Linked DNA regions of Homo sapiens. The protein of the gene in region 1 purifies or fractionates together with the protein of each later gene. This does not show direct contact. Each region holds a gene or a part of one and is shown on either strand. Other genes may lie near its edges.

Evidence for each region. The genes of interacting proteins can lie anywhere in the genome.
Region 2: the proteins of CASR (region 1) and RNF19A purify together in Homo sapiens (affinity purification with western blotting, with the first as the bait; one study listed by BioGRID). This does not show direct contact.

Annotation. Positions count from the first base shown.
Region 1 is NC_000003.12:122,284,668-122,289,512, reverse strand, and holds part of CASR (extracellular calcium-sensing receptor isoform 2 precursor), read right to left. Parts: coding exon 4,322-4,845; 3' UTR 1-4,321. UniProt on the Homo sapiens protein: G-protein-coupled receptor that senses changes in the extracellular concentration of calcium ions and plays a key role in maintaining calcium homeostasis.
Region 2 is NC_000008.11:100,267,465-100,272,309, forward strand, and holds part of RNF19A (E3 ubiquitin-protein ligase RNF19A), read right to left. Parts: intron 2,550-4,845; coding exon 2,405-2,549; intron 1,484-2,404; coding exon 1,321-1,483; intron 1-1,320. UniProt on the Homo sapiens protein: E3 ubiquitin-protein ligase which accepts ubiquitin from E2 ubiquitin-conjugating enzymes UBE2L3 and UBE2L6 in the form of a thioester and then directly transfers the ubiquitin to targeted substrates, such as SNCAIP or CASR.

The DNA of each region.
Region 1 (4,845 bases):
TTGGATCCTTGGAATGCACCTTTATTCCTGTGACAGGTTCTACCCTGTGCTTGTTGTTTCCCTGACCCCTGCCTCACTCCTTGCATAATAGCAAAGTCACTCAAAGTTGTCATCCAAGTCTTGATGTTTTTTTTCCATGATCTGGGCCAGGAAAACCAGCATCTCCCAGAGGCTGTGATCTCACTGTGGCAACTTCCTCCCACCTACCCTAATTCCACCCACCTTTGGGAGTATTCTTGTCTCCAGTGGACTCCTAAAATGACCACTCAGGCTCAGACAAATGAGGGCCACCTCCTCCGGTGATTAGCACCCCTTATTGATGTTCCATTATTCTTGTAGCAATAATTATTTCAAATGCAGCAGATGAGCAAAGGGAAGCTCTGGCTGGGCAGAACCAGCCCGTAGCTATGTGATTTCAGCCAGAGCAAAACGACAGACAACATTGCCTTGAAATGTGCCTTTTGGAGACAGAGGTAGGGTAGCCCCAACTTCCCCAAAATCAAAATTAATGCAATTAGACAACGTGTGACGATCATAGGGACTTTCAGGGTATTGATGTTATATGCTGATCGTCACCTCTAAATTTCCAACCTAAATTCTTAAAATCTTCTAGGACACTTTCATTTGAGTGAAAATCTTTTTAACTTTATAATTCATTTTAATTTTCAAAAGAAATGTAAGCAGTTTCCCATTGTTAACAAAACCTAAGAAATATTTTAAAAAGTAATTAAAAGGTGATCATATATTTACCTCCTGACTTCCTTTATTCAAGAGAAAAGCAAACACTAGTTTGTTGAAGCTACCAATTTCAGGTTTCTGCTACTGACAGATAATAGAATGAGACAACACGGCTGTGTATTTTCTATAACCAAAGCCAGCAAAGACTTAGAATATGAGGTTTATACTTTCCCAAGCAGATGTAGAGGAATAGAATATTAGAGGGGAAGGAGTGAGCTAGGTGAAGGGAAGAGGACCACAGTGAGAACAGGAATAGATCTCTGAGACAGGCTCTGGCTGCCAAAACTCAGGGAAGGAGATAACAATACAAATGTATTTGTTTTCTGTTGCTGCTGAAACAAATTACTATAAACTTCATGGCTTAAAACAACACAAATGTATTATCTTACAGATCTGGAGGTCCAAAGTCCTACAAGGGTGTCACTGGGCTAAAATCAAGATGTTGGCAGGGCTGCATTCCTTTCTGGATGTTTTAGGGGAGAATCGGTTTTCTGGCATTTGCCAGCTTCTAGAAGCAGCCTGCCTTCCTCAGCTCATGTCCACTTCCCTACGCAAAGGCAGTACAGGCCAGTGGTGTTTTTCTCATACTGTATTGCTCTCACACTGACTCTTCTGCTTCGTCCACATTTAAGGGCCCTTGGGATTCCACTGGACCCACCTGGATAATTTGGGACGCTCTTCCTATCTCAAGGTCAGCTGATTAGCAATCTTAATTCCACTATACTTTAATTCACCCTTGCCATGTAACAACATAGCCATAGGTTCTAGAGATGAGGATGTGGGCATCTTTGGGTGACCATTATTTGCCCACTACGAAGTCTATTCAGGTTTGGAGACATGTACCCTGTTTCTTCTCTGGTACCCTGGAAGCTTTGTTAGCCTCCATAAGCTCTGTGTACTGTCATGGGGAGACAGCAGTCAAGTAGACATGAAAGTGAGGCTGCCAGTGATTTCTGGGCCTCAGGGATGAGCATGGAGGTAGCTGCAAGAGCTAGCAGGCCCCACAGGGACCGACTGGTTAGGACAGTGAGGCATGCGTGAAAACCACCACGAAACCCATGATGGGACCAGATGAGGATACAATGCCTCAGAGCACGCCAGCGAAGGCCAGATAAGATTGCTTTCAGCAATGTCATGAGGGAGCTGCTGATGACTGAGGAGGCCCACCCCAACATTACAAAAGCCCTCCTGGAAGGGAGAAGGAACAACCTCTGAATTGATCCCCAAACATCTAAATTGGCTCAGAAAACACTGAGGTTACTGTGAAAACCCCGATTCGACTAAGATGAAGTTTCTGTCACTAGGCTGGAGGGGAATTTGAGATAGAAATTAAGTTGTTGTAGAAAAACAATGCAAGTTCATATTTCACACCCCTGATTTTGTGCTGAGTTGTGCCTGCTACGTATAAATTGGGACAGTGTTTCTGTATCTGCCTTTCTGACAACAGCATTGGGAGAGACTCCTTATTTGCAAGCACTTGGTGAAATAAAAGCTCACTGTAAACCTATGTTTTCCTCCTAAAGCCCCTTGGGTGACATGGACATTGAAGTCAAACCCTGGAGGGAGAAGTATGTCACATTCTGTTGAGGCTGTTCCCTCATAGTTATTTTGAAACCATCACATTTTCAGCATTTCTTTTAAGACCAAGTAAAATGTTAAATATAAATCCCCACTCAGCTCGGTGCCTTGCTCAGAGGCATGACTGCAGGGGGGCGCAGGCTGGGTGGGGGCCGGTGCCCTTCCTAGGTGGGGAGCAGGCACCTCACTTGGGTCATCCTGAGTCACCACCTTCTGCTCACAGTCGCGCTCCCACATGGTGCCCTCTAATGATTTCTCATTATAATCTTAACAACTATCAAGTCCACCAATTTGCCCTACAAATCACTGAAAGGCGCCCCTTTGGAAGAAAGTGGTCAGGGGAAGAAGTCACCAAGAGCTGTAAAATTTGAGGCTTCAGGAGATTTAATTGCAATGGTTTGGCCTCAGCTTAGAACCTCCTGCTAGACTGGTGATGGTCTTCCCTGGATGCTGGAGGTCCAGGCCCTGACACTGCGGAGACAGGGCATTGGGCCACCTGAGGGGCTGACCAGCTTTCTGGCTTCCTCACCATGAGCCAGTGATACTATGGCTGACCCCATGTGTTGGGCCCAGAGCTCTTGGGCTTATTACAGAGAGAGTGATTGTGATCAGTGGGCTAGGCAGTACAATCTGAATGGTTAATATGTATGTTTTGTTTTGTATTTGAAGTAAGGGAAAAAATAATTATTACAGTATCAGTAATAATATTAACTAATATTTATTGAATGCTTATTGTGTGCTAGGTACCAGGCTAAAGTACTTTATATACATTATCTCGTTTAATCCACATAAGAGCTCTGAGGGGAAAGAATGATTATTATCCTTATTTTAAAGATGAAGAAGCTGTGGCTTAGAGAGGTTAAGGTTCCCTGCCTACAGTCACTCAGCTTGCAAATGACGAAGCCATGGCTTGAACCCCGGTCTGTCTCTCTGGCTCCAGAGCCTGGGTGACCGGCAGTATTAATACCACTGCTGGAGGGAACATAGCTCTGACATTTGAGGGTGGATCTTTCTTGGAACCACGCTTTCCTACCCTAGCAGCTATTAGCAGGCCAATAATTGAGAACTTACTCTGTACAGGGATAGGGTGGATCTGGCTTCAGGAATTCTTTGGGGTAGAGATGGGAGGGACTTCTGGACCCTTGAGTCCCTGAAGGGGCTCACATAAGGCTTAGCTTATGGGAGTGAGGATAGTGGGGTGGGGAAATAGAGCTCAATAATACTGCCTTATATAAACCAGACTGACATTTTTCAGTTTATATTGTCCATGGACTATTACAACAGAAGCATTTTCCTAAGGATAAAGCTACATATAGGAATATTAATTACAGATACAGCTCATTGGTTTATGCAGTCCCTTCCTAACAATTTGAGGTGATTCTTGTGATCCTGGAATCTAAACATGGCATCAGTATCATGTCCTGGACAGAAGCAGACATATGGTATAGGAGGGGTGCAAACCTTCTGGATGTTACATAATAGCAGCAGCAGGTAGGAGACAAAATATCATATGGTTTTCATAAATAGGAGGAGATACATTCTCCTTATGTTGTGAACATTTAAAATTCAGTCTGTTGTCAAGGCATTGGGCAGGACTGGTGACATTCTGTCTTTCAGACTCTCAGCTCTAGTGGTGGCAAATTTGATGTCCCATCAGTCTGCACACTCTGGAGGGTAGTTTAAAGCCATAGTTTCATCTCTGAGCTGTTGGGTGGGATAGAACAGAGGAAGAGACATTAGATGTGGGTGAACAGCAAATCTGACCGTGGAGATCTCAATGCTTTGACAAATGCAACCACAGAAACACAAGGCTCTTCTTTTTTTTAATTTTAAAGGGAACATGGGTCAATTCACTGTCATTTAAGATGGTGTGACTAAATTCGGGGCATTTGATGTGTCTATTATCCCTTCTTCCTCAGAGGAAAGGAGTCTGGGGCGATTCCTCTTCCCTGGGACCCCAAGAAACCTCTCTGCATTCTCCCTAGCCCAGTCTTCTCCTTCCATTTTATGAATTCACTACGTTTTCTGTAACAGTGCTGCCTCCACCACTGATGACAAAGCTCTGTGAACTGGACACTACAAGTGCTGGGGACAACTCTTCAGGGTCCTCCACCTCTGGCCGCTGGTCTCCACCCACAGGTCCTTGCAGACCTGTTTCCTGGACGGTCAGATCTAAGTCCGTTTCCCCGCACTGCAGCGGGAGTAATGGCTCGTGTCGGGTCAGCGTATCGCTGCTTTTCTGGGCCTCCAGGGAGTTCTGGTGCGTAGAATTCCTGTGGGCCATGGCGTTCTTCTGAGGCTCATCAAAGCTCAGTGAGAAGGTGACCGTGCCGCTGCCAAAGATGACCTTCTGCTTGCATCTGGGCTGCTGCTGAGATCGTTGCTGCTGTGGGAGGGTCAGGGGCTGCTGCTGCTGCTCTTGCTGGGTTAGGGCCAGCGGCTGCTGCTGCTTCTGCCTCTCGGGCTGTGGGAATGGGTCTTCGCTGTTGCTCTTGCTGCTGATGGAGGAGGAGGGGGTGGATCCCGTGG
Region 2 (4,845 bases), on another chromosome or scaffold:
TCTCAAGCAATCCTCCCACCTCAGCCTCCCAAGTAGCTGGGACTACAGGTGCATACTACCATACCCAGATAATTTTTAAATTTTTTTGAGAGATGGGGTCTCACTATGTTGTCCAGGCTGGTCTTGAACTCCCAGCCTCAAGTGATCCTTCTGCCTCAGCCTCCCAAAGTGCTACGATGACAGGAGTAAGCCACCATGCCCAGCTTGTTAGTTCTTTTTTTTTTTTTTTGAGATGGAGTTTTGCTCTTGTTGCCTAGGATGGAGTGCAATGGTGCAATCTCAGCTCACCGCAACCTCCACCTCCCAGGTTCAAGTGATTCTCCTGCTTCAGCCTCCCGAGTCTGGGATTACAGGCACCTGCCACCATGCCTGGCTAATTTTTTCTGTATTTTTAGTAGAGATGGGGTTTCACCATGTTGGCCAGGCTGGTCTTGAACTCCTGACCTCAGATGATCCACCAGCCTCAGCCTTCCAAAGTGCTAAGATTACAGGGGTGAGGCACCGCACCTGGCCTGTTAGTTCCCTTTTTGAAAATTGCTATCCTTTGTTCTGCTTGGGTACAAGGTTGGGATTAATTTCTTTTTATTTTTTAAAAAAAGTTTTAATTTTTTTGATCTTCTTGGATACCAAAGAAAATTTCTTTTTTTTTTCTTTTAGCTATATTCTACTGAAAGTTACTTCTCAATCCAGAGATTCTATTAATTTAGGCAACAACAGACTTCTTAGGACCTCATAAATTATCCCATTAACCCTTAACAAAAGAACTATTTGCTTAGCTAATGAAATATAATTCATCAATTAGAGGCCAGTGGTAGTCACTGGTGTTTGGACTTTCACAAGATTGTTATAATTTGCAAAATAGTGTATTTATTAAAAGCAGTAATCCAAAAAAAAAGCTTTGAACTACAGCAGAAATAATTCAAGAACTGGCTAATTATTCTTTGCCTGAGGGCATGTGTTATTTAGCTATTAACTTTCATTAAAAAGATCTCATAGACCTGACCTTACAAGGATATACCTATGAGAAAAATCTCAGGTGTGTATCCTTCAATATTTTATACTCAAAGTTTTATAATACAAACATACTAAAATTTTCAGATTCAGAACATTTTAAAGCAAGTCTGCTTTATACGTATTTATATATGCTTGCCAAACACTAAAAATTTATGAAAAAAGAGTAACTGTTTTATACTGAAGAAACTAAAGATACCCTTTGTCTAAAAAAAAAAAAAAAAAAAAACCCAAAAATCATCAATACTAAAAGAATACACCTAAAGATTTAGAATAAGATAATGGACTAACAAGAAGTATGCATTTTACCTTGCGGCCCACATACACAGGAATGCCAATAATCATTGCAGGAATAGCAATGCCAGCTATTAAAGCGATTCCGACAGGAGCACCAACCAGTGTTCCCAGTTGCCACAATATTTTCTTCTTTCGGCTCCAGGGTTTCTTCCCCCAAAAAGTACATCCTGATGGACTAACGGAAAAAATTATAATGTAAATAACTGCTGCAAAACACCACAATAACAAATTAGTGCACTATATTAAAACAATGACTATTTTTAAAAACTTCTCATAGTTAGGAGCTTTTTTCCCCTTTAAATTCTGAGTTCATTAAACTAAGGTAAGAACCACTATAAATTATATTAACAAGATATTGATATATCTTATTTTATATTATATTTTATTATTTAATCTATATTATATTAACAAGATACTGATAACTGAAATTCAGGTTAAAAATTTATCCCTAGTCTTCCATTACCCTCATACCCTTAAGTCAGTTTAATAGTAAATTAATGCAAAACATGCATATTTTTAGGCATCAATTATCTGATTATATCACAAACTCACTCTGTAGCCTAAACGATAAAATTTATGTATGGGAAAATTCAATGAAGTATAAGGTAAGAACCACTGTAAATTATATTAACAAGATACTGATAACTGAGATTCAGGTTAAAAATTTATCCCTAGTCCTCCATTATCCTCAAACCCTTAAGTCAGTTTTTTAATAGTAAACTAATGCAAAACATGCATATTTTTAGGCATCAATTATCTGATTATATCATAAACTCACTCTGTGCCTAAATGATAAAATTTATGTATGGGAAAATTAAATGAAAGTATTTATGGGTCTAGCATAATTACACAGGGTATTACATACTTACTAGCATTCTAGTTTAACAAAAACAAAAAAAGGAAATATCCATTTCCTATTTTGACTAGTTATTAATTCCAAATGACTAGCATAATAACTTGGTTTCTTTTAAATTTATTTAACTAGAATAAAACCAATCCCTTTAAGTATCTTATAAAACCCAAATTTAAGACAAGTTATTTTGTCTTACAATATAAAATTACATTTACATATAAATAGCTCCTTCTATAAGCTTACCTTAGATAATGCAAATCTGAGATTTCTTTCATACACAACCAACAAAACTCACAACCACAAACAGCACATGTCATGTGATTGCAGCTCCCATCATTCATCTTTATTATATAAGCAGCACATCGTGGACATGGCTTTATATCATCAGCTATTGGGAACACAGAGAAATCTATTAAGTACATAAAACTGGTCTAAAAATAACTTCTAGCAGTTTACCAATTGTAGCACTGTCAAAAAATCTTAAGATGTAGTTTGTTAACTTATAGCTTCAGCCTGCTGTTTTTAGTATATAAAGCATTTTTTCTTCCCTTCTAAGAAAACATACTTTACATTAAAATATCAAGTTATAAACATTTTTAAAACATAGTAGTAAAACAATGAGAACAAAGAATAAAAAAAGAATAAAAAGAGAAAGGAGAATCAAGGACAGCTCTAGGCAAATTGTGAACTACGTAAAGTTTGTCTTTGTCCTGGTCCCATAGAAGTCTTCTGAATGGTAGTTCCCGGTTCCAGAACTTTTCTAACCATCTTCCCTTAATTCAAATGTACACGTTCTGTACACTATTCCTTTAGTGAATGAACACTAACAGGAGGTGACAATTTGATATTAATCTGAGGTGCTATATCCAAAGCACTATGAATTTATTTCTTCTAATTACATCAGTTATAAGCACTATAAAAATAGCAAAACAGGTATCTTTAGAAAAGCAGCCTTTTCCCAGTATTTTACTTCACACAAAAGAGAGATGGACCTTGCAAAGAATCAGTACCCAAAATACAAGGAAGGAAGGAAGAGATTAAGGAAGGGTCATATGGCTATGAACGTTATAAACCATGGAAAACAGTTTCAGAATAAAAGCAATCATTGTTAGTTATGCTCATGACTTTTAAATTAGTTGTGTTTATCCTTTTTATTCATTTATTCACCCATTTACTCAACTGTTGTTGGTCTATGCTCCTTGTATAATAATATGGTTACAATGCACAATGGCGTCAAGTTAAAATCAAGTGTAACATAACTTTAGGAAAATTATACAACTACTTTGCATGTTGGCATCTGTTTAAATAGTAACTTGTAATTACTATTAGCCAGCTATATTTTCCAACTACTCACAGTTAAGAAAAGATATTTATAGTGCTAACCACTGAATTTAAGTATTTGTTCCAATGTCTTACATTATAAGCATTAAGCTATATTCCATTCTTTCTACAAGTTTTATGGTCAAACTTTACCTGTGCTTTATCAGTTAATTCAGGTTTCCTTAGCACTTCTTCTAGGACCAAAGATGCTTTTTTTTTTTTTTTAACTTAAGATCTGGTCAATGCTCACAATTAGTATTTGCTTTAATGATTCAAGCAATTTTGAGCAAACTGATACTCTAAGCAGCCAGACCAGGACAATTGATAATTACTAGAATATAAAAATTAAAAATATCCATGTCATGATTTAAATGATCAAAAGAACATGAAGTCTGCATTTAACAATTTTAAACATTGGGGTATGACTAAAAAAAGCTGGCTTTTATGCCTGATACAACACGTGGTATACTAAATTAAGGAAATGCTAATCCTATCTGCGTAAGCAGCATGTTAATCGATAAACTTTCTCATTCCAGAGTATGCTCAAGTAGTAGGTATCTCAACAAGACAGGGGAGTAAAAAGACTCAAGCTTTGGTAATGATGCATGCAATCTTTGGAACAAACTGAAAGGTAACATCCCCATTTATTCTTATGGTTCTAAAAACACAAAACAGCCTTTTAATATGCTAAAATCACACATGAGAATTAATACCACAAGCAATGTATTTTTGATAGGTCTCTATATACTTGTACCCATATCTTTCACTCTCTGTATACTTATTTATCTATGAAAGGCTGTTTAGTTTGCTTTGTGTCTTTCCTCAAAGCAACAAATTAGGAAAAACTTACTGTGCACATTATAGGATGATATATTTCTCTCCAAATACCCTCATGATGCAAAAATCCTAAATGAAATTGTTTATGGTTAGTTGATCCCCCATTCCCCAAGAATCAATTAAGCCACCGTTCCCCGATATGAAAAAGCTTCCCATTTCTATTTACAGTGTTTGGCTAAGCTTTCATCTTCTGTATCTTTTTGTTTACTGCTAAAATATGGGCCATTGTCATATTAAGAAAAAACAACAGGTTACAAAACACCATGTCCTCAAATGTTAACAATGATAATCTCTTAGGGTGGTAGCGGTAAGGGGACAGAGGCAGGAGTGGAGAGCCAATTAAATATTTTATTTGCATAAAATGGGAAAACTACATTAACAAAAATGAAAAATATGTGGTTCATTTAAAATTTAACTCCAAGTGCCTAAACCTCCTAGTAGCTATAAAAAAGAGCCTCAAGTGGATGCAGTGCTGTCACAATTTAAACACATATATAAACATTATACTATAAATATTGTATTATTTT